Linked DNA regions of Homo sapiens: regions 2, 3 and 4 are each reported to be linked to region 1. The links are microRNA targets in miRTarBase. Many come from high-throughput screens and were not tested one by one. Region 1 holds a microRNA gene; each other region holds the end of a gene's coding sequence.

The links. Region 1 holds the annotated microRNA hsa-miR-196b-5p (UAGGUAGUUUCCUGUUGUUGGG, at 5,464-5,485, opposite strand). A microRNA usually pairs through its seed, bases 2 to 8, with sites in the 3' UTR of a target mRNA and lowers its output. Matches are read on the target gene's strand: a 7mer-m8 pairs with bases 2 to 8, a 7mer-A1 pairs with bases 2 to 7 and ends in A, and an 8mer does both.
Region 2: the mRNA of CACNB3 is a reported target of hsa-miR-196b-5p. The part of its 3' UTR that is shown has no 7-base or 8-base seed match.
Region 3: miRTarBase lists TXLNA as a target of hsa-miR-196b-5p. The part of its 3' UTR that is shown has no 7-base or 8-base seed match.
Region 4: miRTarBase lists ARMH4 as a target of hsa-miR-196b-5p. Seed matches in the 3' UTR shown: 7mer-A1 at 2,938-2,944.

What each region holds. Positions count from the first base shown.
Region 1 is chr7:27,164,065-27,171,406 of GRCh38, forward strand. MIR196B (microRNA 196b) reads right to left here and starts at 5,499; the gene lies at 5,416-5,499. HOXA10-HOXA9 (HOXA10-HOXA9 readthrough) reads right to left here. Exons shown (of 3, transcript NM_001433944.1): 2 at 814-903. HOXA10 (homeobox A10) reads right to left here. Exons shown (of 2, transcript NM_018951.4): 2 at 6,541-7,342. HOXA10-AS (HOXA10 antisense RNA) reads left to right here and starts at 4,835. Exons shown (of 3, transcript NR_046609.1): 1 at 4,835-4,929; 2 at 5,243-5,700; 3 at 7,244-7,342. It also overlaps HOXA9. RefSeq lists enhancers at 9-886, 887-1,763, 2,612-3,330, 4,520-5,110, 5,111-5,701.
Region 2 is chr12:48,825,134-48,832,475 of GRCh38, reverse strand. CACNB3 (calcium voltage-gated channel auxiliary subunit beta 3) reads right to left here. Exons shown (of 13, transcript NM_000725.4): 7 at 7,233-7,313; 8 at 6,984-7,042; 9 at 6,707-6,816; 10 at 5,958-6,109; 11 at 5,622-5,717; 12 at 5,353-5,502; 13 at 3,535-4,891. The coding sequence ends at 4,577. DDX23 (DEAD-box helicase 23) reads left to right here. Exons shown (of 17, transcript NM_004818.3): 14 at 1-54; 15 at 290-398; 16 at 1,160-1,334; 17 at 1,784-2,720. The coding sequence ends at 2,007. Among named protein-coding and RNA genes, the nearest start is that of CACNB3, 10 kb to the right of the region's middle.
Region 3 is chr1:32,194,440-32,201,731 of GRCh38, reverse strand. It overlaps TXLNA (taxilin alpha), which reads right to left. Exons shown (of 11, transcript NM_175852.4): 11 at 3,447-6,830. The coding sequence ends at 6,537. CCDC28B (coiled-coil domain containing 28B) reads right to left here and starts at 1,137. Exons shown (of 6, transcript NM_024296.5): 1 at 1,023-1,137. RefSeq lists enhancers at 1-291, 160-379, 292-811, 1,070-1,149, 1,362-1,919 and 1 more.
Region 4 is chr14:57,999,898-58,007,239 of GRCh38, reverse strand. ARMH4 (armadillo like helical domain containing 4) reads left to right here. Exons shown (of 8, transcript NM_001001872.4): 7 at 2,058-2,192; 8 at 2,436-6,479. The coding sequence ends at 2,504. Among named protein-coding and RNA genes, the nearest start is that of SLC35F4, 140 kb to the right of the region's middle.

The DNA.
Region 1 (7,342 bases):
TTCCTTTCTCCTACTCTGTCCTCTTGTCCCCCTTCTCCTTCCTCCCACTCTCAAAACGCTGTATAGAATGAAATTTGGAAACAGGTCTCCTTGCCACGCAGAGGGAAAGCATGCTGCCTTGTGTTCTGTAGCAAGATTAGGATTCCTCTGTCCCGTTCACTGACTTCGTCTTTCTTTCCCAACCTGTCCCTCTACGCCCCCCACTCCTTATTTAACCTTCCTGGAAGGCCTTCGGAGCTGGGCAAGCCGTCAGGGCGCCCTAAGGCCGCTGATCACGTCTGTGGCTTATTTGAATAATCTGTCATGGGGACCCTTGTGGCCCGGGTCGCCCGCAGCCTCATCTTGGCAGGATTTACGCCGCCACTGGCCGAAGGCAAGAAGTGGAAGGAATCGGCCGTCTCCCCCAGCGTCCCAGCTCCGGCTGCCCTGGCTGCCGCCGCTCACGGACAATCTAGTTGTACAAAAGGCTCTCTGGGCTGCACTGCTTTCGAAGAACGGCCCAAAGTATCTCGGTCCTGGGCCTGGGCAGCCAAGGAGAGGGGCGGCCAGTCTTGGCTCGTCCCGAAGTGCCCGCCCCGCCCCCTCTCGCTGCAGCAGCCGCCTCCTCTCCCGTAGCCCTGCGGGCCGCTCTTCACTGCTCTCCAGACTTGGGGCCCTATCTGAGGCGTCCCAAACACCAACTTCTGGCTCCTGGCCCCAACTCGAGAGGCTTCCAGCGAGGACGAAGGCAGGCTCGAGAGAAACCTGGCGGGCCAGCAGATCCGGGAGGCCGGCGTGGAGGCGGCGGCGGATTTGAAGGGAGGAGACACTTACTGGGATCGATGGGGGGCTTGTCTCCGCCGCTCTCATTCTCAGCATTGTTTTCAGAGAAGGCGCCTTCGCTGGGTTGTTTTTCTCTATCAACTGGAGGAGAACCACAAGCATAGTCAGTCAGGGACAAAGTGTGAGTGTCAAGCGTGGGACAGTCACCCCTTCTGGCCGACAGCGGTTCAGGTTTAATGCCATAAGGCCGGCTGGAGGGCAAGCCCGCGAAGGAGAGCGCACCGGGCGTGGGCTCCAGCCAGGAGCGCATGTACCTGCCGTCCGGCGCCGCCGCCGCCACGGGCGCCTGGGGGTGCACGTAGGGGTGGTGGTGATGGTGGTGGTACACCGCAGCGGGTACAGCGTTGGCGCCCGCCGCGTGCACTGGGTTCCACGAGGCGCCAAACACCGTCGCCTTGGACTGGAAGCTGCACGGGCTGAAGTCGGGGTGCTCGGCCAGCGTCGCCGCCTGCCGGGGAGGCTGGCCCAGGGTCCCCGGCGCATAGCGGCCAACGCTCAGCTCATCCGCGGCGTCGGCGCCCAGCAGGAACGAGTCCACGTAGTAGTTGCCCAGGGCCCCAGTGGTGGCCATCACCGTGCCCAGCGCCTGGCCCGCCCGGCCCGACCCACGGAAATTATGAAACTGCAGATTTCATGTAACAACTTGGTGGCACCGGGGGGGAAGTACAGTCACCTAATAAGTTGCCGGCGCCCGCGCCCCCATTGGCCGTGCGCGTCACGTGCCCGTCCAGCAGAACAATAACGCGTAAATCACTCCGCACGCTATTAATGGTCCGATGTTTTGCAGTCATAATTTTTATAGCAAAAGCCATATGTTTTTATGTAAAGGGATCGTGCCGCTCTACGATGGGGTTTGTTTTAATTGTGGCCAACGACGATTAAAAGATCAAATCTAGCCTTGTCTCTGTACTCTCCCGTCTCCCCCCCCATACACACACTTCTTAAGCGGACTATTTTATATCACAATTAATCACGCCATCAAGAAGGCGCGGGTCCCGCGTGCGAGTGCGGCCAGCGGAGCCCCTCACATAAAATTAGACAATAATTGAAGCCATAAAAAAGCAGCCAAATCGCATTGTCGCTCTACTGTATTTAAATCTATATTTATGATATTTCATAAGGAGTTATTGTTTCAGAAGCCACACAGGCTGGCGGGAAGTCGGAAACGACCAACAGATTCGTTTGCCTCGCCGTGGCTCCCAGCTGTAAAAATTTACGAGGACTTGGAAAGGTTAGACTGTTGTGTTTGGTTGGCGAGCTCCCTGTAAATAATCCCTGCGGTCCCCGGGAGAGGCGAGTTTACCCGCGGCCGCCCTCGAAAAGTCAAATTCAACGCAGGATCCGTCCCAAACGGAGCCGCCGCCGGCCCTACCAGGGCACTCCAGGCAGGGACCGGCCGCTCAGGGAGTACCGCGGGTGTAGGTCCCCACAGCTACCCGCCTGGAGCGAGGGGCGCCCGGGCAACCCTTAAATTCGCCTTTGCTACGAGGACCCCACGGAGGAGCTGGCCAGGAGGGAGCGGCCAGCCGCCACCAGGGCGAAGGTTTTGAGGGCCTGGTTGGTTGTGCGGCGCGCTCGGTCCCCGGCCCTCGACCCCACGCACACGCGCGCCCAGCCCGCCTTTCTCATCAGCTGGCAATCAGGATTCCCAGGCGCAGGCGGCTGGCGACCCAGCCCTGTGCTCCAGCCTCAGAGGCTCTAACCATGAGCGCTGCAAGCCTGGTTGCGCTCCGTGAATCCCAGCTGGGGAAAAAACTACAAGTGGCATGAATGGAAGGCAAGTTCGGTTTGGGAAAAGGCAGCCTCGCCTAAGAGACCCCGCAGCTCCGGAACCTGGGAGGCCCGCACCGATGTGGCCTGTCCCGGGGCCGCGTGAGCCTTTCAGGGCTCCTTCCTCCCTTTCCAGCTGCTACTCCGGGCCTCGCCTTGGTTACCTACGGGGCCCGGAGACTCGGCGGAGAGGTACAAGGCCCAAAGAGAGGCAGCCACAGCTCAAGGCCAGGGCTGGAAATTAGAACGGGGAGGGGTAAAAGGGCATCGACTCCAGTCCCATTCCTGGGCCTGGCCACGTTGGGGAAGTTTATTTCTCACCCGTTGGGGGTAAATTAAAAGGTCGCCGCCACTCCGTTAATTGGAAGGAAACTCCCCCTGCCCCCAATTCCTAACAGAAAGCAGCGACTCCTAGAACAGGGGTAATCAAATTCACGTGTGGATACTGTGCCTGCAACAGTGTGTTTTTCATTAGCCCACTTCCCTGGCGGCGAGGCTGGCGGCCTCGGGCGCTTCCATCTCTCTCTCTCTCTTTTGCCTTCATCCTCACCAGCAGTTCCAGTAATCCCCCCCTCAAACACCCTGACACACTTCCGGCTGGGACTCCCAAATACCAGCGAGGCTGCCAAGCCGCGCGGATACCGACTGGGTGCCCCTTCCTGCACCCGCGCCTGGAAGAGGGAAGTGGCCGACACAATGAACTCCGAAATGGCCCCGTCCTGTCCGCCTCATCTCCCTCCCCCTAATATTTTCCTTGCCCCATAAATTCCTCTAGGTCATGCCCACCCCCACCACAGTCCACCGTGTCCTAAATACCCCGCAGTCCGCCAGGCCTCTGAGATTTTCATTTAAAAAATTAACCCTGGAGGAAACCCTGGCTCCCAATTTTAAGTGTCTGCAAATGGGCTGGGCATGTCTGGATGCCTTTTCCACGTTTTATGCCTGAGAAGACACTGATTATTTCAGTATTTTTTAAGTAAAAAAGCTGTTCCTTTAAACAGCCTTAGCCCCAAAATAAGAGAGTTACTGAACAATTAGCAGGCGTTGAGTGTTAAGCAGATGTTACTGGTGCCTAGAAAGCGGAGAAAAATCAGAAAACCAAATATTGTCTTCCTTCAGCCCAAAGGTTTGGAGCCAGAATAGTCTGACTTTTTTGTCTGCTTTTATTTTCGAAGTGAAAGAGATTGCGTATGCATAAAGAAATAATAAATGAGTATAATTTAAAGCGGCCCCTTCTCGACTGAGATTTCTGAAACTGTGATCTCTGAAATAAATCCAATGCCCTGGTCCAGAAAATGGCAGGGAGGAGTTGAAGGGAATGGGGTGTGTGGTCCTTTCAGACAGCAGGTCGGTGGCTGTGCAACGAAAGAGTTCCTGGGCCTCCAGTCCAGGCAGGGAAAGGAAACAGCTTTGTGGGCACGAATCTGTAACTGTGTGTGTTGGGAGTAGGGAGAGATAGTTTGTTTTCTGTTTTCTGTAGGGAAAATGGTCAGACTGGCTCCCATCTGTAGACTACAATTTGGAACGATGACTCAAGTTTATATCAATGGCTCTGGAATTTGGGATTCTTTTTGCCCATTTAAAACATACTGGCTCTTGGAAGGGTCCCCTTCTCCAGCACCCAGCTGCACAAAGGTGCTGTATGGAACATATTTTGTACCTAATGGAAGCCACTAGTAAGCAAGCAGTCAAGCTTTGCCCTAGCCAGTCTCCCTCAATGCGGTCAAACCCCAAGCTGTGACCGGCAGGCCGGGAAGAGCCAGCTAAGAGCTTCCCAGCGAATGGCCAGGCTCCAGCGAGGCTGGTTGGGCCTCAGCTCCAGTCCCCAGTGAGGCTGGCGAAGGCCTCCCTGCCCTCGATATGGGCACACAAAGCTGCAGCGAATGTCCCCTAATCAGATCTCCTAGTCAGCCGTTAGCGACAGGCGAAGAAACGCAAGGCTGCCGCCATCCGGTCGTGATCATAACCGAGGCCTTGTCTGCAGAGTAACACACCAGGCCCAAACCCACCGCCCTCGGCAGCCGCCCCACGCGGGCCCTTCCTCGGCAGACTTCCCAACCTCTACTTGAGCCGCAGAGGAAAGTGAGACCCCCTAGGCTCTCCTGAAGCCAGCTCTGGGCCCCTCCCCAAGGATGCTTTGGGAAGGAGATAAGGAGGTGAGATAGAATCTGGCAGAGACGGAAGATGAAAAAAAGACCAACGGAAGAAAAGAAAGCAGGAAGGAGCAAAGGAAAGAAGAAAAAAAGAAAGAAGAGATAAAAGAGGAAGGGAAGACAGGGAAAAGAAGGAAGAAAAGAGAGGCGACTCCTAGCAGCGGCCGAGCTTACAGAGAGAAGGGTAAGTGACAAGGCCAGGATCCCAGCCTGCCCTATCCTTCCTAGTCCAGCCTGAGTCTCCACTGGAAGGAGGTTCTTTCCTGAGCTCACACCCGGGACTGGTGTGTGTGTGTGTGTGTGTGTGTGTGTGTGTGTGTGTGTTCCAGCCTTACAAGAGAATGGCAGGAGGTCCCTGGGCAGGCGCAGGCCTCCAGTGGGAGGCTCAGGATGGAAGCGGGCGCCCCTGACCTTGAATGGCCCAAAGCCCAGAATTCCTACCACGCCCCCGGCGTCCGCGAAGGAGCAGCCAACCTAACCCTACCTGCTGTGACCAGGTGGAGGTGTGTGGTGGAAGGGGAAAGCCGGCCGGCTGGCAAAGCGCTGCGGAGAAAGACACGAGGCTCCTGAGCAGGGAAAGCCGAGGTTGCCACCGCAGGCCTGGCACGACCAGGGCCGTGATGCCCCGCCCGGCCCGACCCCCGCGCGCAGAGGTACCTGGAGACGATTTCAACTGAAGTAATGAAGGCAGTGTCGTGCTGTCGAGAGAAAGGTGGATCCCAACAACAGGAAACTACCTAAATCACCGACCAGTTCTGGTGCTGCCCGCGAAGGGCTGCCTCGCCCGCCGCCGCCGCCGCCTCCGCCGCTGCCGCCGCCGCCAAGGAGAGAACCCTGCCATCGCGCCTGGCCCGGCCCAGCCCAGCCCCTAGGCAACCTGCGCCCGCCAGTGCAACAGAGTGCCCCAGGCGGCCGCAAATGCGTCAAGGAAGGGGAAGCCACAGGCCCCAGTAAGGTATTCCTGGGAGGGAGAGGGAGGAAAAGAGAGGGAGGAAAGGCAGGGAGAGAGGAATAAAGGCGGGGAGCAGGCGAGACGAGAGCAGCTCCGAGAAGCAGTGTGCGCGCCGCTTTCCCAAATCTTGCAGCCCAGCGAGCCGGCGCCAAGAGGCGGTAGCCGTGGAAGGCTCGAAAGCGCCAGGGACGGTACAGATCCCGGCTCCCTGTCTGGCCCCGGCCTCCCGCCTCTCGCTCTCCCCCTCTCCCTCCTAGCTGCCCGCCCGCCGGGGCGCGCGCTCCTGCGCCCCCTCCCCTTAGCCCCCGCCCCCCCCACTCTGGCAAGCAGGAAACGCGTGGCCCTAAGGAGTGCCGCCAGGTGGGGGAGGCCGTACTGGGGGAGGGGGAGGCCCCCATGCAGTCCAGCCCGGGTCCACCTAACCGCTGCCTCCAGCGGCTAGAGATGCGCTGTGGGCCAGGCCTGCTCCCCGATTCAGATTGAGGGTCATCTGTGACCCAGACACCCGCAAAATAACCGGCCTCTGCAAGCCTCCCTGGGGCTCCCGAAAGAAATCCTGTTTGGCTTCCTCTGTCTATGTAGCTCCCCTCTCAACTGAAATCACTGGTCCAAGACAGCCACAATCCAGATATACTAGCAAGCCATAAAACTGAACAAAAGCCGACAAACCTTACGGCACCAGGGCTATAGGGCCCAGACAAATTACGACCGTCTAGGTAATATTTAAATAGATGCCTAAAGTAATTGCAGGGGCTCGGGTTAGTCCTCCTGTTGTAAAAGTGGTGAACGGGATAAAGTGGAAGGTGAAGATAAGAAGTCAAAAAAGAGGTAAAATTAAAAAGCTTCATTCCACAGCTTTTATTCTATAAGAACATAAACATCGTCTTTTTCCACGCACAGCAGCAATACAATATTAATTTATTCTGATTTAAGATTAGAAGTAAATAGAGCTAGAACTAACATTTATAATAACGATAGAATGCATTTGCTTAAAACAAGATTGGCAATTCTTCATAATAATAGACATTTATACAGATTTGTATTTATAGTTTTTTTCTTTTTCTGCATCTACAGGTTTGACCCTTTTATGCATGTAACTTCACAGTATAAAGGAAATCCAAACAATGTCTCCCTTCTCTAGTTTATTCCGCTTACCCCAGTCCTCCTAGGCTTCTGTGAATTTCAGAAAGCAAAAACAAACAAAAAAAAAACTTTTTGTTCAAGGCGATTTAAAAAAACAACTTCACAAGATAGGGAGAATTGTGGTGTGCTTGTCACATGTTACCAGTGGTAACAATTTTAATGACAAAAAAATCCACTAATTCCAAATGCATAAACAAAACTACATTATTTATCTACAGCCAGAAGGATATGGAAATTTAGAGGTAAATGAAACATTTTAGTCAGGCAATGTAAGACCTTACAGAAACTGGAAGAGAAGTCCCCTTCTCTTGGTAATTCTTTTTTTTTCTTTTTAAAGCTGGGATATCTTACAGAGGAAGGAAAAATTAACCTTTTTTACTTTCTTTCTCACTTTTTAAATCAGCCAAAGTCAAGCCCGTTTGCCAACCTGCATGTCCATGCCTGTAAGCCCTTCTCTTGGCCAAGGAAGAAAGGAAGAAAGAAAAAAGAAACCCAGGGGCCT
Region 2 (7,342 bases), not on the chromosome of region 1:
GCCCCATGAGCGTGTGGAACAGAAGGTCTTCCTCATGTCAGAGTCAGAAAAGAGGTATGAGGGCAGCTGAGCCAGGGGAAACAGGGTGGAGAATAAAATGGCTCTGAGAACTTTTTTAGTGCAGGTGCAGGGCAGGGCAATTGCTCTGCTGTGTTGAAGAGCTGCTGTTTTCTTGGGCAGAATGTCATGGGCATTAAAGACCCTGAAAGTAGTGTTCATAGATGAGGGTTGGGCATTTCACTTGGAGTGGGAGGTATTATGCATCTTGTTTTTCTCCTCTTCCTTCCAGGAAAAAGCTGCTGGCAATCTTGGAGCAAGGCTTTGACCCACCCATCATTATTTTTGTCAACCAGAAGAAGGGCTGCGACGTGTTGGCCAAATCCCTGGAGAAGATGGGGGTGTGTCTGGCAGGGGAGAACAAAGTCTAGCCTCTGTGGCACTGCTTTCTGAATCTAGCAGGGCCCCCTAGGCTCTTCCTTTCAAGTCTCACCCTTTCTTTAGCCTGTCCAGCAATCAACAAGTTAGGACCAGGGTGAAGGGTGGTTTGAGGGAATAAAGAGAATGGAATCAATTGCTGGGACCCCCTGTCTGCTGCAGTAATGCCAGCCAAAGCTGCCTTGGGTCTTCATCCTGGTGAGGTGGAGCCAGGGAAAGGTTTGAGACCCATATCCTGGCAGTCTGAGGATGTAGAAAAGAGTAGGTGAAAACTGCTTAGGTACGTTGAGAGGAGGTGATATGGTCAGAAGGGAGCTGATAATCAGTGTCCTTTACTCCTGTCACTGGTGCTTGAGGGGAGGGGTGTGTCCCTGTCACTCAGCTCTCCAACTTCCTTAAACTTCTTGATCCCTGCTTTCTACCCTGATCTCGCCCCTAATTCTCTTTGAGGACTTTTCATCTGTCTGGCTCCACCGCTCTCCCAGCTGTTTTGCCTTTGACCTTACTCTGTGTGTCCCTGCCACACCACACCTTTTTCTCTCATCCCTCTCTTCAGCTCACTTGTTCTCTCCTTCTTTCACTGCAATCATTCTCTTGTTTCCTTTCCTTTCTCGTACTCTGCTGCTCTCTCCAACCCTCCCTTCATCTGTGTCCCATTCCTCTGAACTCCTGTGTCTCTCCTTGATTGCATTGCTCACTCTTCACTTCACCATTCTTCCAACAGTACAATGCTTGCACACTGCACGGTGGAAAAGGCCAGGAGCAGCGAGAGTTTGCGTTGTCCAACCTCAAGGCTGGGGCCAAGGATATTTTGGTGGCTACAGATGTGGCTGGTCGTGGTATTGACATCCAAGATGTGTCTATGGTTGTCAACTATGATATGGCCAAAAATATTGAAGGTAAGTTCCAGGGAAAGCAGCTTCAATCCAGGGTGAAGTCAGATTCCTTATGGTGTCCCACTGGAAGTCAGGGTGCTGTCCATGGAAGGCTGTTACTGCCTCCCTCAGTTCCAAGTCTGGGATTGCTTGCTCCCATGAGAAGCACTCCTGTCCTTTATCTTACCTGGGTTTGTTGTCCCAGCAGCTGGGATGACACTTGTGTCCTCAGGAGTGTGAAGAATGAAGCTAGGCAGCTGTGGGTCTTAGTGTGGTAGGGACCACAGTCAGTAGGAGGACAGGGGAGATGGGCACCTGGAGAGGGCACTGTGGGCGCCTCAGGTTCAGGCAGCATGTGCTGTATTCCTGCCTTTGGAGATGGGGTGGGAAGGATGCCTCTAGAAGTGGAGGCATCAGACACGGCTCCCCAGGGCATCTGGGCTATGCTGAGTGACGTTCTTCCCATTCCCCAGATTACATCCACCGCATTGGCCGCACGGGACGAGCAGGCAAGAGTGGGGTGGCCATCACCTTCCTCACAAAAGAGGACTCTGCTGTGTTCTACGAGCTGAAGCAAGCTATCCTGGAAAGCCCAGTGTCTTCCTGTCCCCCCGAACTAGCCAACCACCCAGATGCCCAGCATAAGCCAGGCACCATCCTCACCAAGAAGCGCCGGGAAGAGACCATCTTTGCCTGACACAGCACTCTTCCTGTGGGCTGAGGGCATCTCCAAAGCTGCCTGATGCCTGTTTTTCAGAACCCTCACATCCCTCTTTCCAGGTCCTCACTCTTGGGATATGGGGGCTTAGGAAAACAATCCAACTCCCTAGCCCAGACCCTCAGGTCAGGAGGCCTGCGTGTGGGGCTGCAAAAGGAGAGGACGACGCTGTCGGAGGCAGGGAGAGCAAATTACCACAGCTTCTTGGCCCAGTTCTGCCCTTCTTTGCTTTGGGATTGCACTGGGCCATCAGCTCATGCCAGGCTATGGGGGCAGCCAGTTGGCATTGCTCCCCAGACTGAACAGAAACCTGGCCGCCGGATGGGACCTCCTTTGGCACAGACTTGACTGTGTAACTGCATAAACTGCAGTAGCATCATTGCCCTAGATGCCCCAGGAGACCTGGCACCATGAGGATTACAGACAGTGGAATCTTACTGTCATCTGGACAGCTGTTTTCCTGTTTGGATGGTAAAGGAAGTTGAGAGTCTTTAGACCTGTGCACAGCCCCGCACCAAGGGGTGCTGTATGCTCTAGGCATCCCCTCCCCCAGGGGATTTTCTAAGTAGATGGGGGGACACGGTGAACTGGCTGTGTCCATCTTTGTCACTGAGTGAAATCTCTGTTTTCTATTCTCTGAGAAGATAAGTTTGTATGTTCTGAGAATAAATACATGAATATTAAGACTGTTAGATCTAGTTCTAGTTAAACTTCCCAGCTTCTCCCTGGCAGGAGGGACACCACTGGGTGCGGGGTGGGTTGGCTTGGAAAATGAGAGACAGCCACATTAAGAGAAGAGTAGAGGGGTCTCTGCTGATAGTCTTGAGTCTGTAGGTGGACTTGAGAGGAGATGCAGAAGCCACGCAGGACTGTAATGCATCTTCCGCCCCTGCTCTAGCCTCGCGTAATGTGTGGCCCTGGCCTGGACACCCTCTAGGGAGCTTTAGGCAAAGGTGAGAAAGGAAAGCAGTTGTGAAATTTTGGCAGGTGAGGCAGTTGGAACCACTCTGCCGCTGTGTGCCCAACGCCTGGTCTCGGGAGCTTTGCTTGTGGCTCCCTAGTTGGACCCATTGCTCCTGGGAGGGGATGGTGCAGAACGGGTGGACCCAGCTGTATCAGGCTGTGGTGAGAGGAACGCAGGGCTGCAGTCCTCCCCCCATACCCCTCTTGTTCACATGCTCTTCTTACCCCACAGAAAGAGTTGGCCTAGTACATAGAGTTCAAGTTGTAGCTGCTTCTAGGGCCTTTTTGGCCTGGCGCAAGGATACTGTAAAGCCGTGACCAAGCGTCTTCCCCACATCCCAGGACAAGCCCTTCCGTGCTGCTGGATGTCTCCCTCTTGACACCTGGGCATGAGGAGTGGGGATGCCTGGGAGTGGAGTGCCTCCCCAGCTCTGCCTTTGTCCCCTTCCCGCTGGACAGATCCTCTGAGAGAAGGGCGGCCCAAACACATCTTTCCCTCCACCAGACTTTGGGCCGCATCACAGACAGAACAGAAGCCGGAGGGACTGTGCATGATGTTTATTAGTGATGACAGTGAGGTGAGGCAGGGGCTTGTGGAGCATGCTCTGTAGGTCACACACTAGAGCCATAAGGCAAGAGTAGCCGGGGAGACAGGTCCTCTGTGCCCTGTCTCTCCCCATCTAACCCTAACCTAACAAGCGGCAGCTATGAGTCAGGGAACAAAGTCTGGAGCCCGGTTCTCCAAAGATGTATGAGGGACAAGAACAGAAATGACAGGATGCAGGGCAAAAGAATGAGAAAGGCAAGGAGGCCCCCCTAAGTTCTCTGCTACACATGCCCTCCTTCCCCAAACCCCCATCCAGGTTGGCTCCCATCTGCCACTTGGCTTCACCATGCTCCTGGTCCCTGGTCCTGTCACATGTTAAGAAGCTTCCTGGCAGGGTGAGGAGAGCCCTTCCCTCCAAGAGCTTCAGCTGTGAGCTCTCTCTGGCCCGAGCGTGGCCAGCCTGCTGCTCCAGTCTTGGATGTGGCTGCCACACCCCAGCAAACAGATGGGTGTGCCACCCTGGGGGGGCTTTGATTGTCTCATTTCTAATGTATGGCAGTGAGGTGACTGGAGGCCCTGGATGCCAAAGCAGTCCCTTGACTGTCAGGACTTGTGCCTGCTCAGGGACCTTGTTTCTTCCTCATGCCATGGTGCCCACACCCCACCCTTTTGTCACTTTAATGGGGCATCCCTTCCCTGAGTCTGGTGGGAAGGACCCTGCTAAGGGGATCCTGGCCTGAGGGCACTGCCCAGTGGGGCAGCTTCCTGTGTGGGAGGAGAGGAAGGTGCCAGGGGTGCAGAACACACAGCTAGTACCTGGAATGGGAGCCTAGTAGGGGTCACTGCCCAGGAGGTGAGGGGGTCCCCTGTTTCTCCCAGAACCTTGGGACCACAGGCAGCCCTGAAGCTGGGGCTGGGCAGGGGGTTTTGGGGGCTGAGCCTAGTGCCAGCCTGATGCCAGTCTAACGCCACCCTGCCTGGAGTGGGCCCCCCAGCCAGCTGCGCCTGTGCCTGCCAGGGTAGGGCAGCAGGAGGCTGTCAGTAGCTATCCTTGGGCCAAGGCCGGTTGCGCTGCCAGTTCCGGTCACTGTGGTTGTGCTCTGAGTCCTGGGCTAGAAGCCGGTCTTGGGGGTCATGCCCGTTAGCACTAGGCAGCCCCGAGGTGTGTTGGCGGTGAGGCTGGTACAGGTCCTGGTAGGCATCTGCATAGTCCTCCTCCAGGTGGCGGGAGCTACGCTGTGAAGATCCTGTCCAGGCTTGGCGGGAGCTCTCGCTGGCCTCATCAGAGGGCATCAAGCTGTCCCGCTCAAGGGGGGAGTGCTCCTCGCCACGCTCCCCCAGCAGCTGCTGGTTCTGGGGGCCATACAACAGCTCTCAGTGAGGCAGTACAGACCTCACCTTGTCTTCTGGTGAGGTGCGAGATTCTTCCCCCCTCAACTCTCAATTCCCCGGTAAAGGAAATAGTGCAAGGAAAAAGCATGCTGGAGCATTTTTCCTCTTCCGAGAGAGAAAACTGGAGCTTCGACTCCCGCAAAATTCAGGCTCTGCCTTCAAGGCAGCCTGGGAGAAGGTTTGGAGATTGTGTTTCTCTTGACCCCTAGGAAACTAATCTCTGACGTATCCATCTCATTGATTGATTCCCTCTCTCCTCAGGAAGTTCCTTTGCCCGTCTGTGCTAGCTCTGTACAGCAGAGCTGAGAGTTCTACAATCCTTTGGCATGCTGAACTGGAGGCCAAGGACAGTCCTCTGGGCAGGGAGGGGCAGTGCCTTGGCTGGCTTAGCTTGAGCATCTCTGCCCACTGGAAATGGTTACCTGAAGTCCGGGGATGGCACTGGGAGGACCCAGAAGTCCGGGGCCAGGGGCTGGGTGGTGCGTGGCCCGCCAGTAAACCTCCAGGTACTCAGCCAGGTGCTCACAGGCATCCTCCAGCTGGTTCTCATCCAGAATCACATCAAATGACTCCTGGGGAGGGGGAGGAAGGCGCAACGTTGGTTTCCCCTCAGTAGCAGCCCCCCACCCATCTCTATCACTGCCGCAGCCCTGGGGGAGTGGGCACAGGAGCAGCTGACCCAGGCACTCACCGGTGGGCACTGAACCAGCTTATCATATGCCATCATCTGTACGGTCAGGTGCTTCATCTGTGACTTCCCCCGGGAGCGAATGAGACGCTGGAGTACCTGAGCGGGGAGGGCAGAGCTAGGCCTGGAGTCTCTCAGGACTCTGGGCAGAGCTGAGCCCGGGCAGAGCTAGGCATTTCTTCCACTTGTGGCATCAGTAGCAGGTGAGGATGACTCAGAGTTGTGTTAAGGGCAGCAGGAAAAGGGAACTCAGGTGCCCCAGGCAGGGACCAAGTAGAATCATGCCACATTCTAGTAGGATAGCCCTGTGGGCCTCCTCCATGAGCCCAGCTGACTTACCTTTGGTGAGGACACTTTGACAAAGACGATGATGGGGGCCAGCGAGGTCTTGGCCAGCTGTGCTGGGTGGTTGATGGTGTCAGCGTCCAACACTACTAGCTGCAGGGATTTGGCCAGCTCAAATATGCGCTCGATCTCACTCTGCACTTCCGCTATGGAGGGAGGCAGCAGCAGTGCTCACCAGGAGCTCTGCCCACTGCTCACTCCAGCAGGCTTTGAGGGCTCCCGAATGGTGGACAGGAAGGAATTGGAGGAAAAGGGCATTCATCGAAGCCTGGACAGGCAGAGGAATGGGAATTGAGGAGGAGGGGTGTGTTCTTGCCAATCCTGGGGGCAGGTAGAGGAGTTGGGCAGAAAGACAAGGAGGTAAGGAAGAGAAAAGGGAAGAGGGGCCAGGCATGGTGGCTCATGCCTGTAATCCCAGCATTTTGAGAGGCCAAGGTGGGCCGATCACTTGAGGTCAGGAGTTCGAGACCAGCCTGGCCAACATGGTGAAACCCCACGTCTACTAAAAATGCAAAAATTAGCTGGGCGTGGTGATGGGCGCCTGTAGTCCCGGCTACTCAGGAGGCTGAGATGGGAAGATCGCTTGAACCCAGGAGGTGGAGGTTGCAGTGAGCCGAGATCTCACCACTGCACTCCAGCCTAGGTGACAGAGCGAGACTCCATCTCAAAAAAAAGAAAAGGGAGGAGGAAGGTTCTCACTGGCACTTGAGTGGGCACAGAAGCAGGTGGTGGGGACTTCTCACCAATGCTGGAGCGGGCAGAGGAGCGCTCAATGATGGTCCTCTTGCCCGGATTGTTGAGCACAGATCGCTTTGCCAGGGAGAGGTCGGCTGTGACTCGGGTGATGGAGATCCTGGGGTGGGAGTGGAGAATCACAGCTTGCTTCTAAACCTGTGCCTCAGCCTCTCCTTACTCAGCTCCCACTAACTCTTCCCTTAGAGAAGACTAGCTACAGGCATCTGGAAGTAGGCCATGAGCTTCTCCTTGGTTCTCAGGCCACCTCAGGCCAGGGCAGCTTACCTGCCATCAAATCTGTGTTTGAGGAAGTCGAAGAGAGCCTTCTGCATCATGTCTGTGACCTGGGGGAAGGCATGGCACTGATGAAGGGCCCCTTTGGAGAGAAGCAGCCTCCCCATGCATGGCCCCAGAGTCAATGCGCTCCACATACACACCCTGGACGGAGGAGACACACCCCTTCCACTTTCCCTAGGGACTTCCTGTGGCAGGCTTGGTAGAGGTGACTCTTTGGGGTCAAGGACCTCCTCTCACCTCATAACCTTTCAGAGAGGGTCCCACCAGCACCACAGGCCGCATGGAGGGCACCACGTCATATGGGGGAACATGTTCCGCCTGCAGAATGGACATGAGGTCAGTAGAAA
Region 3 (7,292 bases), not on the chromosome of region 1:
ACCTTCTAAGGCCCAACCTAATTCCCCTTCTGCCTGAAAACCTAGGCCCCTCCTGAAAGGGTGGGACCAGTCACAACTATCTTGGCGCTACTGGGGCTTCCTGTCACGGTGGCTGGGGGGCGGGGCTGGCAGAGGAAATGTAGTGGGAGACAAGACGGAGGTGAGCTGCAGAAGCCCAGCCGAAGATTAGGGATGTCTTAACTAAACCCTATTCTATTTATCAGGGGCCTAAGCAGATGCTAACAAACCCTGTCAGCATGGGAGGGGGACAAGGTGCAGGTAGGGGCGCCTGGGAAAGCCCCAGCGTGTGGGTAATTGTAGGAGAAGCCGCAGCATACAGGGCAGGGTTCATTGTGGGTTTCCCCCACATAGACACCGGCATCCCTCCACTTCCACCCACCCCCAACCGAAAATATTAGGGACTCCCTATAGGTCCCGCGGGTGTGCTTTCAGCTGCTTCATTTTTCCCAGTCGGAAAGTCCCTGCTGGGCTTCAGCTGCAGCCAGGGTGGACTGGGTGGTTGGCCGCTGGCTGCCTGGGCCTCCGACAAAGGCTGCGCCTGTGGCTGGGCTGCTCCGAGGTCCCCGGTCCAGCAGCGCCCCCCAAGCCTCCGGTCGGCTGGGGTTCCCTCCTCTGGGGGTCTCATTCCAGGCTGCTGCTACCGAGCCTAACTTCGAATTCTGGGACTGGGGGGGTTGGGGGGGTGGGTGGCGCTTAAGCATTTACACTGACACATAGCTGGCTGCCACTGACGGGGTCTGCGGGTGTGGGGAGGGGAGATAGGAGCGCATCCTCTGCCTCTCCGTGCAGCAGCTTGACCCAATTAGGGACCTGATAGAAGAACTGGAGCCGGAGCCTGTGCTCCCCAGGAGCGGCTGGGGCGACCGGGGATCTATTTCCCAAGCCCGGGCTCCAAAGCCATGTGCCAAACTCATCGCTCAGCTCCGCAGCCGCGCTCGAAGACAGAGCGTCAGACCCGCGTCATTCCGCCCCCGCCCTCACTCCCTCAGGGGGCTACTGACCTGGAGGTTTGGGGTCTCGAGTGATGCTTCGGTGCAAGTTCCCTCCGCCCTCCGCCCTCTCCTCCCGGGAACACCACCGGGTGAAAGCTAAGCTGGAGGGAGTTCATTTGCATTTAAAGAGAAAGTGACCTTCTCCTTAGCGCGGTGGGGTGAGATGGGAGGAGCATCCCCGCGTATGCTAAGCAGTTCCTCTCACTCGACCTCACCTCCCCGCCTGAACCTAGGGGACCCTGTTGGTTGTGTGATGTCTATTTTAAAAAGATTTTCCCTTTCCCGGCAGTTTCAGAGAGAAGCTACAGTTCCTTACAAAATGGTGGTGGCTTTGTCAGAAAGGGGGTGGGGCGGGGGAGAGGAGAGACAGAGTGAGTGAGTGAGAGAGAGAGAATGTAAGCACAGAAGAAGCACAAGCAGCAACAGCAGCAGCATCAGGAAGACACTTCGAGCAAAGACAGCCATCAATGGAGTGAGTCCAGTGCCCTATTGAGCACTTTACATACATTTCATCCCCATAACAACCCTTAAGGAAGATACCAGTGTCATTCCCCATTCTACTGAAAGTAAGCAACAGTCTTTTGAGGGCAAAACCCCTCTCTCTACAATGCCAGACAGTTTTCTCTGGTAAGTGGTGGGGGCTGTATTTTGCCGCAGATGAAGTGACAGGAGTCCTCCCCACCCCCCAGGCCTAGGAGACAGGTGTGGGGAGCACCAGGTCATAAGGTAGACCACGCGATTCCCTGGCACCTGACTCCAGTCCTCAGGGAAACCTGAGCACCTGATGGAGGCTGACCCAGTGTGACTGCTGCTGCCTGCAGCCAGATCAATGGGGGCAGCTATTTAAAGCCCTGGCAGAGGCTCCTGGCGCAGGTCCCCAGAACAGCATCTGATACAACAGGAGAGAGGCTCATGTTTGGCCAGGCGGCTCAGCAGGCTCAAGTGAGCTGGCCCAGGGCAGTGCACACAGCCACCCAGCCCACCTTCCCCATCCCCGGGCAGGAGTGGCTTCCTGGGGTTGGGCCTCTTGGCTGATGTGGGGAGCCATGGGCACTGCTCCTGAGGGCACCTGCTCAGGGCTTCTTCCTGGGTACTTCCAACACTCAGAACACTCCACAAGGGTAAAGAGTAATTCCGAACTTTTTCAATAACCAGGGGCCCAGACTGGGGACAACAGAAATCCCTCTCCTTCCCCACCGGAGCTGCTAGAGTAGACAGTGGTAATGCTGCTGACAGAGGGAGCACCCCTGTGGTTCCCATCCTCAGCTGCTTCACTGGGGGGTCAGAAACCTCATTATTCTCAGAGCTGCTTTGCTTGGAATCTCCAAGAGTTGGGGCGGCACCCCCCCCACACCCTCCAGAGGATCTGCGACTAGAAATAACATGGCCAGCATGGAAAACATGTATCAGGACCCAGCTAGAAGGGTCAGAGGCTCTGCTGGGACTGTCACAGTCATTGTGGGCACATCTATTTGTGGAGGCCTGGAGGGAAGGGCAGGTGGGTTGTCTCTGCCATTTCCTGGGCATTCAGCACATATCATCCTTTGTGCCTGACCAACCCAGGACCCAGAGAGAACAGGGTGCTGGGTGAGGCCACCAGCAGCATGTCTCCCATATAGGAGTCCCATGCTTGAGGTGGGTAAATGGGGGGTGTAAAAACTGAACAGAGAATGTGCTCTCCTTAAGGAATGCATACAATTAGAGGCCCCTGTGAATTCCCTTGGGCAGGCCAGGGCTATAGGAGCCTACCCACAGCTCAGACCCAAATAGCAGTGATGAGTGTCCACCCCTCTTAACCTGGGCCTCAAATGGCCTATGCCTGGCTCCATGCCTTTTGCCTTACTGCTGGAGCCTATCAATTTCCTATTGAAACACCTTCAGTTGCCCCCCCTGCCCTCTGGATCTAGCCCACATTCCTTAACCTGGTACCCAGACTCTGGGCCCAGCCTCACCCCCTCTCCCAGTCCCATGGACCTGCTTCCCAGCTGTACCATTTAATCACTAAATGACGTTCATCTTCTACCTGCCCTGTGGTTCAGAAGGCCATTCCAGGTATCACCCCCTCACCTTGCTGAAGGGGGCAGGGGCCTCCTCTCTGCTCTCAGCACCATTGACCTGTCTATAGCTAAAAGTACCTTTTCCCTTCACTAGCCTGTGAGCCCCCAGGTCAGGGAAAACTTTTTTGTGTGTGTGTGATCCTCTCTGAGGCAAGGGTCTTGCCAACTTTGCCAAGGGCTCCACTCAGGCAGCTCAAGTGAATATGCCAGCATCCTGAGGCTGTGGCGACTGCTCAAAGACACTGTGGAATATGTAAGATACCAGGGAACCACCATGGGCGCTCTGCAGCAGACCTGAACAAGTCAGTGATGATGGAAGGGGCTGAATGGATCAGATCCAGAAACAAAGGAATACACAGGTCAGGAGAGAAACAAGTAAGGCAACAGACTCTTTATTTAATGTGGTTTAAAATACATCAAAATCAAGTCCCTGGCTGTTGTGAATACCCAAAGGAGACAAAAAAGCTGCCAGTGCAGCTTCAAACAAGTCTGAGTGGCCGGGCTGGGCCATAAGGAAAGCAGTTACAGGGACAGAAGGCAGCTCCCTTCCCCCAGGAAGGGCAAGAGGAGCAGGTGCCTGGCTGTCCCTGGGGTGACCACCTCTGTGCTGTGCAAGGCGGAAAGGCTGGGGCAGCAGCTGGAGAATCAGCTCAGCAGGCCTTGGCCCTCCCCCGTGGACACCAGGCAGCTCCACTGGCCTCCGGGTCAGCCCTCAGGGCCACCGTGATGGGGTGGAGGAGGGTTAAATAACCATCTTTACAGAAATAACAGTCTCCTACAGAAAGTGCCTGAGCTCAGCCCATGGTCCGATAACCTCATGGAAAACAAACAACAAATAAAAAAAAAAAGTGCTGCTGACACCTCTCAGAATCTGGTGGACATGAAGCTCTCAGCTGGACAAGGCCCTGAAAACAATTTACTATTAGCAGAGCCATGCGCTCTTGAGCTTCACCTGCTGTGGTCCCCTGGAGGAAAAGCTAGCAATCTAAGAAACCAACACAGATCTTGGTCCTAAAACTGAGGTCACAAGTGTGGGACCCACCCAGGTGAGGAAGACACTGGCCTTCACTCATGGATAGGCACCTCCCCTGCATCTGGCCCAGGACCTGGGCTACTTTGGAAAGCAGAAGCAGAGCAGCTGTAGTGATTGGTTGATTTGGTCAATGAAGAGAAGAAAAAGGTAGGGAACCTCATCTGCAGACTGGCCTGAAGGTCTAGACATGGATGGAGCTGTGAGCAAAGGCTGCACCTTGCCTGGGGCCCACATTCCTGACCTGGGAAACCCAGCTGGGGCCACCTGCTCACTGTGGCCTCCTACACCACCACACTGGGATCCAGCAGCTCCAGTCCCTCCACAGGCATTAAGAGGTAGCTGAAGTGTGAGTCAGGCAATTATGTGGGCCACTGTAGGCCTTTCCCCTCTCTTCAAGGGGGAAGGTGCATACCTCTGCCTCTTCCCTGCACCTCTCTCGCCTAGCAAACACTCTGTGAGGTTGGCAGCTCTTGTACCAGCTTAGCCTGGCACAGGGGCTGGGGTAGGGAAAAGGCCCTACTGGAGCAGGAAGAGGCAAGGACTACTCCAGACAGAGGGATTCAAAGGGGAAGAAAAAGGTCATGGGAAACACTTCACAGGACAGCAGTATCTCAGCCAGAGATGGCAGAGATCTCAACACTCACACAGCTGCTTGAGGGCACCTAGATGTGAAGGATACACCAGAGAATAGCAGGCAACTCTGATGCAGATCAGTGGTACCTGCCCTGGGGCAGGAGAAGGAGAAATGGTGTGCCATTCATTTGCCATCTCTGGTCTCAGTCACACATGATTCAGTACTTAACATTCTTTGTGAACCAACTTATCTGAGAGATTTAAGGTAAGGGCTAAAAGAGTGGGCTAGGTATGGAAGATGAAGGGACCTGCAGGACAATGAACTAGCTTCAAAGAAAAACAGCAAGAAGCAAAGCCCTAACCATCCTATCCATCTTGGTCTGAGTCATTCTGTTGTCCCAGAAAACTGCTTGGCACAAACACTGGCTAATACCCTGGCAAGTTTGCAACAGCAGAACATTCAGCATATAGAATGGCTCTACACAGTACATAGTAGTTATGTACTGGAGTGGGGGTAGAACAGGACACAGAAACAACTGTCTGCAGCCATTTTATGGATTTCTGGGGCCCAGTCAATAGTTCAATTTCATTTCTTACCTGTTAGACAACAGCTATGGGCTCCCACACAGGAAGAAGTAGAATCCCCAAGGACAGGCAGGGAGGTGCCAGGAAATAGAATCAGGACAAATCTTGAGGATTGCACATGTGGGGGTGGGGGCAGGAAGCAGAAAAACCCATGAAGCCAAAGAGGCAGCTGGACATGGGACCCAGCAACTGCTGCATGGAGACAGTGCTGATGGGAACTGGTGGTGGCCTCTCAGGACTGAAACCCACAGGTAAGCTTGTGGCAAAGCCATCAGAAGCCCTTTCCTTTCTTTTACCACAAACAACCTGATCTCACCAAACAGGAAACCTCAGCATCAAGATGGCAAAGGAGCCAAGTGGGGTGGTGAAGGAGGTGGGACACTGGAGGCCAGGCACCCAGGCACCACTGCTACAGCATCCCTCTTCCTTGGAAGGTCCTCAATACAAACACTGTCATGTGCAAAAAAAAAAGAAAAAGAAAAAAAAAAAAAAAGAAAAAGAAATAAAGAAAAAAACACCTTCAGAAATAATCCTTTGGGTGATCTCTTGTCAATCATTTGTGCAGGCTAGAGAGGCACCTGTGAATGATAAGGCTACTGAGAAGCATCATTGGCCTGGTCCTGGCACTACCAAAGGGCAGGGGAAGCGATGCCCAAGGGGCTCCTGACCAGCACATCATCCCACGCAAAAACATTCTCCAGGTCCCTTGTTCCAGGCAGGAAATCCCCAGCTCTGAGCGCCCTGCCAGGGCTCTGCCTAGGGACACCTTTTCCAGGTCTAGAGAATCAAAGGAGCCTCCAGAGCAGCTAGGAGGGCCTGAGCTGACCAAGCAAGCCCTGCTCACAAGACAAATGCAGTCAAGACCTGGGTGTATTACTTGTCTTGAGCTCTGAAGGGCAGGGAGGGGTCTGAGCCTCAAATCAGACAGAGAAATGCTCAAGTCACTTCTGCCAACTCACTGTGATGGCAGCTACAGATGACAGCCCCTCTCAAGACTCTTCAGCTCACAGACAAGCCACTGACTTCATCTGTACACACCCCCATCCCCAATGCAAGCCCACTGTACACTTACAGGTATAAATGCATTTGCAAGGCCTTGCAAAATGCCCTATGTACGTAAAACTGACCCACAAAATCCAAAATTGCAAGTGCCAGATGCCAGCCAGGTCAGAACATCCTGGCTTCAGCAATGGGCTGCTCAGCATGGGAGCCTTTTATGGGCCAGGCCTGGCTGGGCTGCCGCTCCCTTCCCAGCATGACCCAACACCAGGCTCTCTAGGCCCTGGCGGAGGTGGGCTCTTGAGGCCCAGTCTGGCCTGATGCTTCTGTGCTCGGTGCTCCTGGGTAGCAAGGCGCTTCTGTGACCCTGGGGGAGCTGGGTGCTTGAGCCCCAGGCCCCTCTGGCCTCCTCTCAGGGCCACTGTCAGTGAGGGAGCCCTGGCCACCAGCACTCAGGTCCTGTACCCTCTTGTTCAGGTCATTGCGCTCTGTCTGCAGTGCCCGGCACAGCTTCTCCAGCCGTTGGATTTTTACCTGCAGGCCCTCCAGTTCTTTATCCCGGACTGTTTTCTAGGGAAAGAAATGAGACCTTCAGTGCCGTGCCCCATCAACCTCCCACTTACCATCACCACTTGGCGGCAAACACTTTAACAAGGCTGAGAGCAGACCGAGTCCAAAGCTGGCCCCCTCTAGGAAACAGTCCTAGTTGAAGCCATGACTAGGCTGTCAGGTGGGGCAGCATGGTGCAGAAAAGGGGCACGGCTTGGAGATAACGTATTCCTCCATTTATCTACCACGTGACCTTGGCAAAGGACTTGACTTTTGAGCCTGTCTCATCTATAAAACAGGACTACTAATACCATCCTCAGAGCTCAAGAGAAGGTTCAATGAACAACGTACCTAAAAACATTCAGCAGCAAAAAAGACAAAAAAAACCCAAAAACTTTCAGCAAGGTCTGGCTTGCAGTTGCTGCTCCATCGTTAGTTCCTTTCTTCTACATTACAAGCTGTGAAATCACAAACTACCTGGGC
Region 4 (7,342 bases), not on the chromosome of region 1:
TTAAGTTACAGAGTATGAGGAGACATGCACAGAGGCTGATCAAGTTGACCTTCCAAAAGTTCAAATGTTACTGTACATGAGAAGCCTAATCATCTGGGCTTAAAGTTTATCATATTTCAACATGTGTGTGTTTCCATACACTGGGAATGGTCATGAAAAATAATTCACAGTTCTTGTGTGAGCACCAACACTTTGATGTTGTTCAGTATTTTCCCACATGGAAAATTGCAGAGTTTTTATAAGCCTTAAGTAGATTTGGAAGAACTTTAGAAAAAGTTTGGGCTTCTACAAAGCATATTAATTAATTAATTTATTTATTTATTTATTTTTATTATACGTTAAGTTCTAGGGTACAGGTGCACAACGTGCAGGTTTGTTACATATGTATACATGTGCCATGTTGGTGTGCTGCACCCGTTAACTTGTCATTTACATTAGGTGTATCTCCTAATGCTGTCCCTCCCCCCTCCCCTCACCCCACGACAGGGCCCGGTGTGTGATGTTCCCCTTCCTGTGTCCAAGTGTTCTCATTGTTCAGTTCCCACCTATGAGTGAGAAGAAGGCATATTAATTTATTGAAAAATGTCTAGGCTTTGTTTCTTGGGGAAAAATACTTAGTATGCTGAGGAACAGTGCTATTGTTCTCAAATTAATGGAAGAATTTCCATATTTTGCCCTAAGTGAAGACTCTGGGAGGCAGAAACAGTGAGGGAGCTGGCTGAGCACAAGAGGAAAGTGCTGCTGTTTCATAAACTCTGATGTATTCTTTGGATGTCCTGCTAGAAATGTTGGGAAAACATCACAGCCTGCATACTTCAGCACTTTCAGGAAAACTTTTATCCTCTGTCCTGCTCCATTTTTGGCTCACTTTGAAAAATACTAAAACAGTTTGTGCTGTATTAAAAATTTAAAAAATAGTCATATAAATGAATAGACTTATGAACAATTTAAATTGTTTATGTATTTTGCATGGGTAGACTTCTAAGAAGGGCTTCTTGGGAGGCAAACCATTACCTGTGTTCCCCCATGAAAGGGCTATAGGTTAGTACATACCCTGTTAGCCCATAGGAGTCTTATTGGCCAAGGTGTAGGGATCACTCTGAGTACAATGGCCTTTCCCTGAGCTTAGGTAGGTCCTGAGGTACTTACTCAAGTCCAGGGATCATCCTGCTCTCTGAGGATAAAGGTATCCATAGTGACACCTTGGAGACCCTGGAGACATCGATGAATTTGACACTTCCAGGATCTTTTGGAGGTATCGTGTTGTTGGCAGTGATCTTTGTGTACTTCTCTGCCACTTCCTTTCTTTGGGGCTGGGACATTCAGAATTCCCTCCCAACCTCCAACTTTGTCTTGTCTGTTGGGAAGGTGATTCCATTCACAGAAATCAGTCCATCCATTTTGTGTGCACACTCTCCCCTTGTCCTTGTCTTTTCTGCCTTTGCTCCAACATCTAACATTCCTCCTCTTGCCTTTGCAGGCCTTTTTTTTCCTTGTTTTCAGAAGCCCTCCCCTTTTACCCACAAGCATTTTCATCTTTCTTTTCTTACTGTAATGCAGCCAAGACAGACAGAGAGGGAGAAGAGAGGACCACCACTGTCAAGGCCCTCCTTTTAGCCCCCAGCAAACACACTATTCCAGAGGACACTTTGACCTCCTTTAAGCTTGACTCTGGCTGATATTTCCAATTTATAGCATTTTAGTAGTCCTGGCATTCTCAGAGGCTTACTTCATCCATCTTTAATACAAATTATATTTCTGTCATCAGAACCTGAGGTTGACAAATGTGCATAAGCTAGTGGCTGGAGGTGCCACTAGGTCTGGCTGATTTATTTCAATACTTCTATGTATTTGAAATATCCCCAAAATAGGCCTGTCTCTCTCTCTGTTGCCTTCTCCCTAAAAAGTTACTGTATTTTAGGCTTAGTTTTATCTTACAACAAAGCAGACAGGAGAATTCAAAGTGTCTAAAAACCTGCTGCCATCCAGCAGAAATGAGAAACCCAGGGCGGCGCGCTCTGTTTAGCATCCTAATGTGTGTTTCCTTTTCTATGCAGGCTGGTTACATGTCTGGGATGCTGGTGCCTGTAGGGGTTGGGATAGCTGGAGCCTTGTTCATCTTGGGAGCCCTCTACAGCATTAAGGTTATGAATCGCCGAAGGAGAAATGGCTTCAAAAGGCATAAAAGAAAGGTATGGAACCAACAACAGCAAAACCTAATCAGTTTCAGAACATTCTTTGCTTATCTAATTTACTTAATAAAGCACACGGGGTTTAATGATGCTTGGGTGGTATTGACGTGCCCAGTGGTCTGGATTAGCTGCTGTAGCTCCTGCCTTGGCTTCGTTTGTTAGCATGTCTTTTAAAGTGGGCCTGTTTCTCAGCTTTGCTCTGTGGCAGAAAGAGTTTAATGCTTTTCTGTTTTCTTTCTCTAGCAGAGAGAATTCAACAGCATGCAAGATCGAGTAATGCTCTTAGCCGACAGCTCTGAAGATGAATTTTGAATTGGACTGGGTTTTAATTGGGATATTCAACGATGCTACTATTCTAATTTTTATTTTGGAGCAGAAAAAAAAAAAGAACAACCTGCCACATTGCTGCTATCAGGCCGTTAGTCCTAGTGTCTGCTGGGTGCTGGGTAGTAGATTTTTCTTGTACTGAGCAGAAATGGCATGTTGTATACTAAACGTATCATGCAGTATTTGGTTTTATTCTGTAGTGAATTTTCCACAACCGTGGGCTACAACTCATAAATATGCAACATATATGTTTTTCAGTAGGAGTTGCTACATTAGGCAGAGTAAATATTTTGTAGTTTTCCACAGTGTCTTTTCCTTGGTTTGAATTACCTGCATTGAGAATAATGATTGTTGCCACCAAGGCATGCTTGACTCTGAGATATAAATCTTAACAAAGAATAACTTCTCAAGATATACTCTACCTACTTGAAACCACAGGGTTGTGGGCCATGGTACATACTGCATTTGCATCAAACTAGCAGTAACTCAGAATGAAATCATTTTCATTAAGAAGCTCTCTCAGCATATTAGGATTATATGTAGATTTGTATGTATTTTGCATTATGTACTTCAGTCTCCTAGTTTTATTATTCTCACCTTCCGTTTTATTCTTGGCGAGGAAAAAAATGCACTAGAAATAATACATTAAACTGACTCTTAGTCTTAATGTACGTTTGCTGTCTTAAATAGTGTGATTGAGTCCAACAGACTCAATCATACATGTCATACATGTTTATGATTAAGAGATATTCTTTTTGTGTGCTAGTTGATTTTGCCGAGAAAAAATGAAGAAGAATTCAAGAATGAGATGAGGGTAGGTAAGCTCTCAGAGCATTTCTGTCTGCCATTTGGTTCTATGCTTATGTGGCTGCTAATGTGACTAATTCAGAGTGTTGTATTTCCACATCTGTGGACTCCACCATGGAAAAGGTGGGCTACCATTGGTCCTTATATGGCTTTATTAGAAAAATAGACATTCTATCGTTTGTCTGCCCAGTGGCCAGAGTCCTGGTGAACAACAGAGCTCATGGGAAACCAGCCTCTCTCAGGGCACCCCGCTATGAGGATATTGAAATATGTTCAATCATTTCTCATCTCCCTTGGAATGTAATTCCCTGCCCTATACAAAATAGGATATTCCAATGCGCTATTTGAATCTAGGGATTGAGGATTTGTAGTTGAGTTTTGGGGTAAAGGCTTGGCTCATTGCCATGGAAGAATAAAAGTTATTTATTAATAGTGCTGTCACTGTGGAGTACTTGTTGGTGTTTATTAGAAGTTGTCTACTATGTTCAAGAAAAGTTGCACAGTTATTCCTCAGAGCTACTATGTGAGGTAGGACATATGTTTTTATTCTCCCATTTGACTGAAGATGGAACTGAAGCAGAGAAGTGAAATGATTTTCCAAAGTTGTACCCAGAGAGAATCAGCGTGAGAACCCACTTGGACCCAGCCATGCACCCTTATCTTCAGTTCAGTAACCTTTTCATAGACTTTGGTGGAAGCAGTGACATTTCAGGGTCCTTCTTTAAAACAAAGGTTCTAAGGGAATAGCAGGGAATAGCTGCCTGGTCAAGGAACGTTTGATGTGAATTTCCATCTTTGTTAAATGAATGATGCCTTTCTAATTTCTCTCTTACTCACACACAAGTTCTTTCCTTCCCCATCTCAGTTATCAGTTATTTCCTTTACAGTCATACATTTGAGTATCACCTCTATGGAACTAATAAACCTTCCTAGAATCCGTTTTTGAATAATGTCTGGCTCACAAGAACATTTTCATCAAATAATTTTAACTCTTTTTGCCAAGAGATGTAAGCAAATATGTGAAACTGATCAAGAGAAGTGAAAAGCTCTGTACAGTCAAATAGAAGTTAGCAACTGGCAAATTAGCTCAAGGTCAGATTTTAAAAATAGAATTCAGAATCATGACACTCAGAAGTGATTTGTAATTTCACGAGTAGAGACATCCTGATATTGCATAAGGGATGTTTTCCTTTTCTAAGAGCAGCCCTTTGCTGTAAGTGTTTCTAAGGTTGGGAGTAAGTGAGCATGGTGTGGCATTACTGTCTTTGTATTCTTGACAAACTATTTGTTGAGAATACGTCGTAGGCCACTTAACTGAGTAGCACATGGGTGATACTAGTGGCCATTATTGCCTTGGGCTACTCAATCTATAGTCTTAACTAAACCATGGCTAATAGGTTGAATCTTCAAACTGTAGTGTAATAAATTCCCAAATAACAGACCCATATTTTCATTTCTCAGAGGTCCGTGAGGATGACATGTATGTGAATTTTGGCTTAACACAGTATCTCTGTGGTCCTTTTTGGGACACATGATTTCTTAAAGGAAAAGATTATACTTAGAGTACATTTCTGTACAAACCCATTTAAACATCTGGATTGAGTGGAAGGTCGGTGGATGGTACAAATGACATGTTTATTTTGGCCATTTTCCTTGCTGCTGGTGGCTGTGGAATAATGATTTTCAGTGGTTGGCTTAGATTATTAAGAGGATCAGAAAAGGTTGTCATATTTTAAACAAAACCTGGGATTAGAGATGCTGCTACGAGATGGAAGTGCTGGCCAGTGGTTATATAGTGGTCCAGTTGAGAAGTAGTAAATCAGGCACTTGTAGGTTTACCCAAAATAAGTGACAAGTATGCTTATATTTGCACAATTAAAATAGAAAGTCAACTTTTTATTCAAACAACTAGGCTTAAAACATTTAACAGTGAAACAAATAAAGCTGTCTGGAAAGGAGGGCTGATTCCTGCAGCTTCAGTTGTGAACACCATCCCCACTGGACTGAGTTTACCCAGCCAGAACTGCCAGCATCCCACCGCAGGGGCAGGAACTAGGTCTTCTTCTCGGAGGGAGAGGCAGTGTTTCCAGAATTTGCAGGCTCATAAAAATCACCTGGGACACTTGTGAAACATACAGATCTCAAGGCCTTGCCCCAGACCTGATGAGTTAGAATCTCCAGGGAAGGAGCTTGGGGTATTCATGCCCCAGCAAGCTTGGGAACACAGCTAGGAGGGATCTATCTAGAGAACCACTTCCTTATGATAGAGACAAGGTCATTTAAAGTCACAATGAGATACCACCTCACACCTATTGGGATGGCTATTATTCAATAAAACAAAATATAACAATTGTTTCTGAGGATGTGGAGAAATTGGAATCCTTGTATACTGTGGGTGGGAATGTAAAATGGATAGCCACTGTGGAAAACAGTATGAAGATTCCTCAAAAAATTAAGATAGAACTACTATATAATCCAACTATCCCACTTCTGGGCATATATCCAAAAGAATAGAAATCAGGATCTTGAAGAAGTATCTGTACGCCTGTGTTCATTGCTTATGCTTATAAGCATATTATTCACAATAAGCTTATAAGTATTATTCACAATAGCCAAGATATGGAAATTGCATTGATAGATATGCAAATATCTATCAATAGATGAATGGATAAAGAAAATGTGGTATATACATACAGTAGAATATTATTCAGCCATAGGAAATAAGGAAATTCTGTCATTGTGACAATATGGATATACATGGAGAACATTATGCTAAGTGAAATAAACTAGTGACAGAAGGACAAATGCATGATTGCACTTCTTTGAGGTATCCAAAATAATCAAACTCATAAGGGCAGAGGCAAAATGGTGCTTGCCACGGGCTGGGCAAAGTTAAAGGTGGGGAGATGTTGATTAATTATGTTTCAGTTATGCAAGATGAATAAGTTCTAGAGCTCTGCTGTATAACATAGTGCCTATAGTTAACAATATCGTACTGTGCAGTTAAAAATTTGTTAAGAGGGCCGGGTGTGGTGGCTCACGCCTGTAATCCCAGCACTTTGGGAGGCCAAGGTGGGCAGATCATGAGGTCAGGAGATAGAAACCATCCTGGCTAACATGGTGAAACCCCATCTCTACTAAAAATACAAAAAATTAATTGGGCCTGGTAGCGCGCCTGTAGTCCCACCTACTCGGGAGGCTGAGTCAGGAGAATCGCTTGAACCCGGGAGGTGGAGGTTGCCATGAGCCAAGATTGCGCCACTGCACTCCAGCCTGGCGACAAAGTGAGACTCTGTCTCAAAAACAAAAACAAAAACAAAAAACAAAACAAAACAAAAATTTTTGTTAAGAGGGTAGATCTCACATTAAATGTTCTTAACACACACACACACAAACACACACACACACACACACACACACACACAAAAGAGACAAGGAGAGCAGTCCCCTGTAGGAAGAGACACTTTCCCTGGTCATGCTATCCAATAAATCACACCTGCTGTGGAGAAAGGAGAAAGGAAAACAAGGAAAGAGAAAAGGATGGAAGCTACTAGAAAAAGAATAGAAGGCTGGGATGGAGAGAAAAGGGTTTCTCCCATACCCCTGATGTCTTTTTCTCTAATTAGAAAAGACAGTGCTTTTCTTTCCAACCTCTTTAGTTTTTTCTTTCCCATAAGCTGTTTCTTTCAGTAGCTGCTAGCTTAATTTATATGCAATATTTGGAGTTAATTAGTATCCCAGGGTAACAGATTCCCTTAGCGATGCCTTAGCTGTGCCTTCAGCTGATAAACTGCCTCAAATACAATTTTCCAGAAACACTTTCTTAAAGTACCTGTATCTCTTAACATAGGTCAAAACTGTATGAAGAAATTTTAAAGCCAAGTTTTAGAACACATTTAAAGTAATTTTTGAAGAGTCAATTAAAAGTGGTTTTTCATTTTATGATTTTTTTCCCCAAATGCTAAGCGTTAAAAGCCAAAACATTTTATATAGGTATCCGAAAATTACATAGAGTG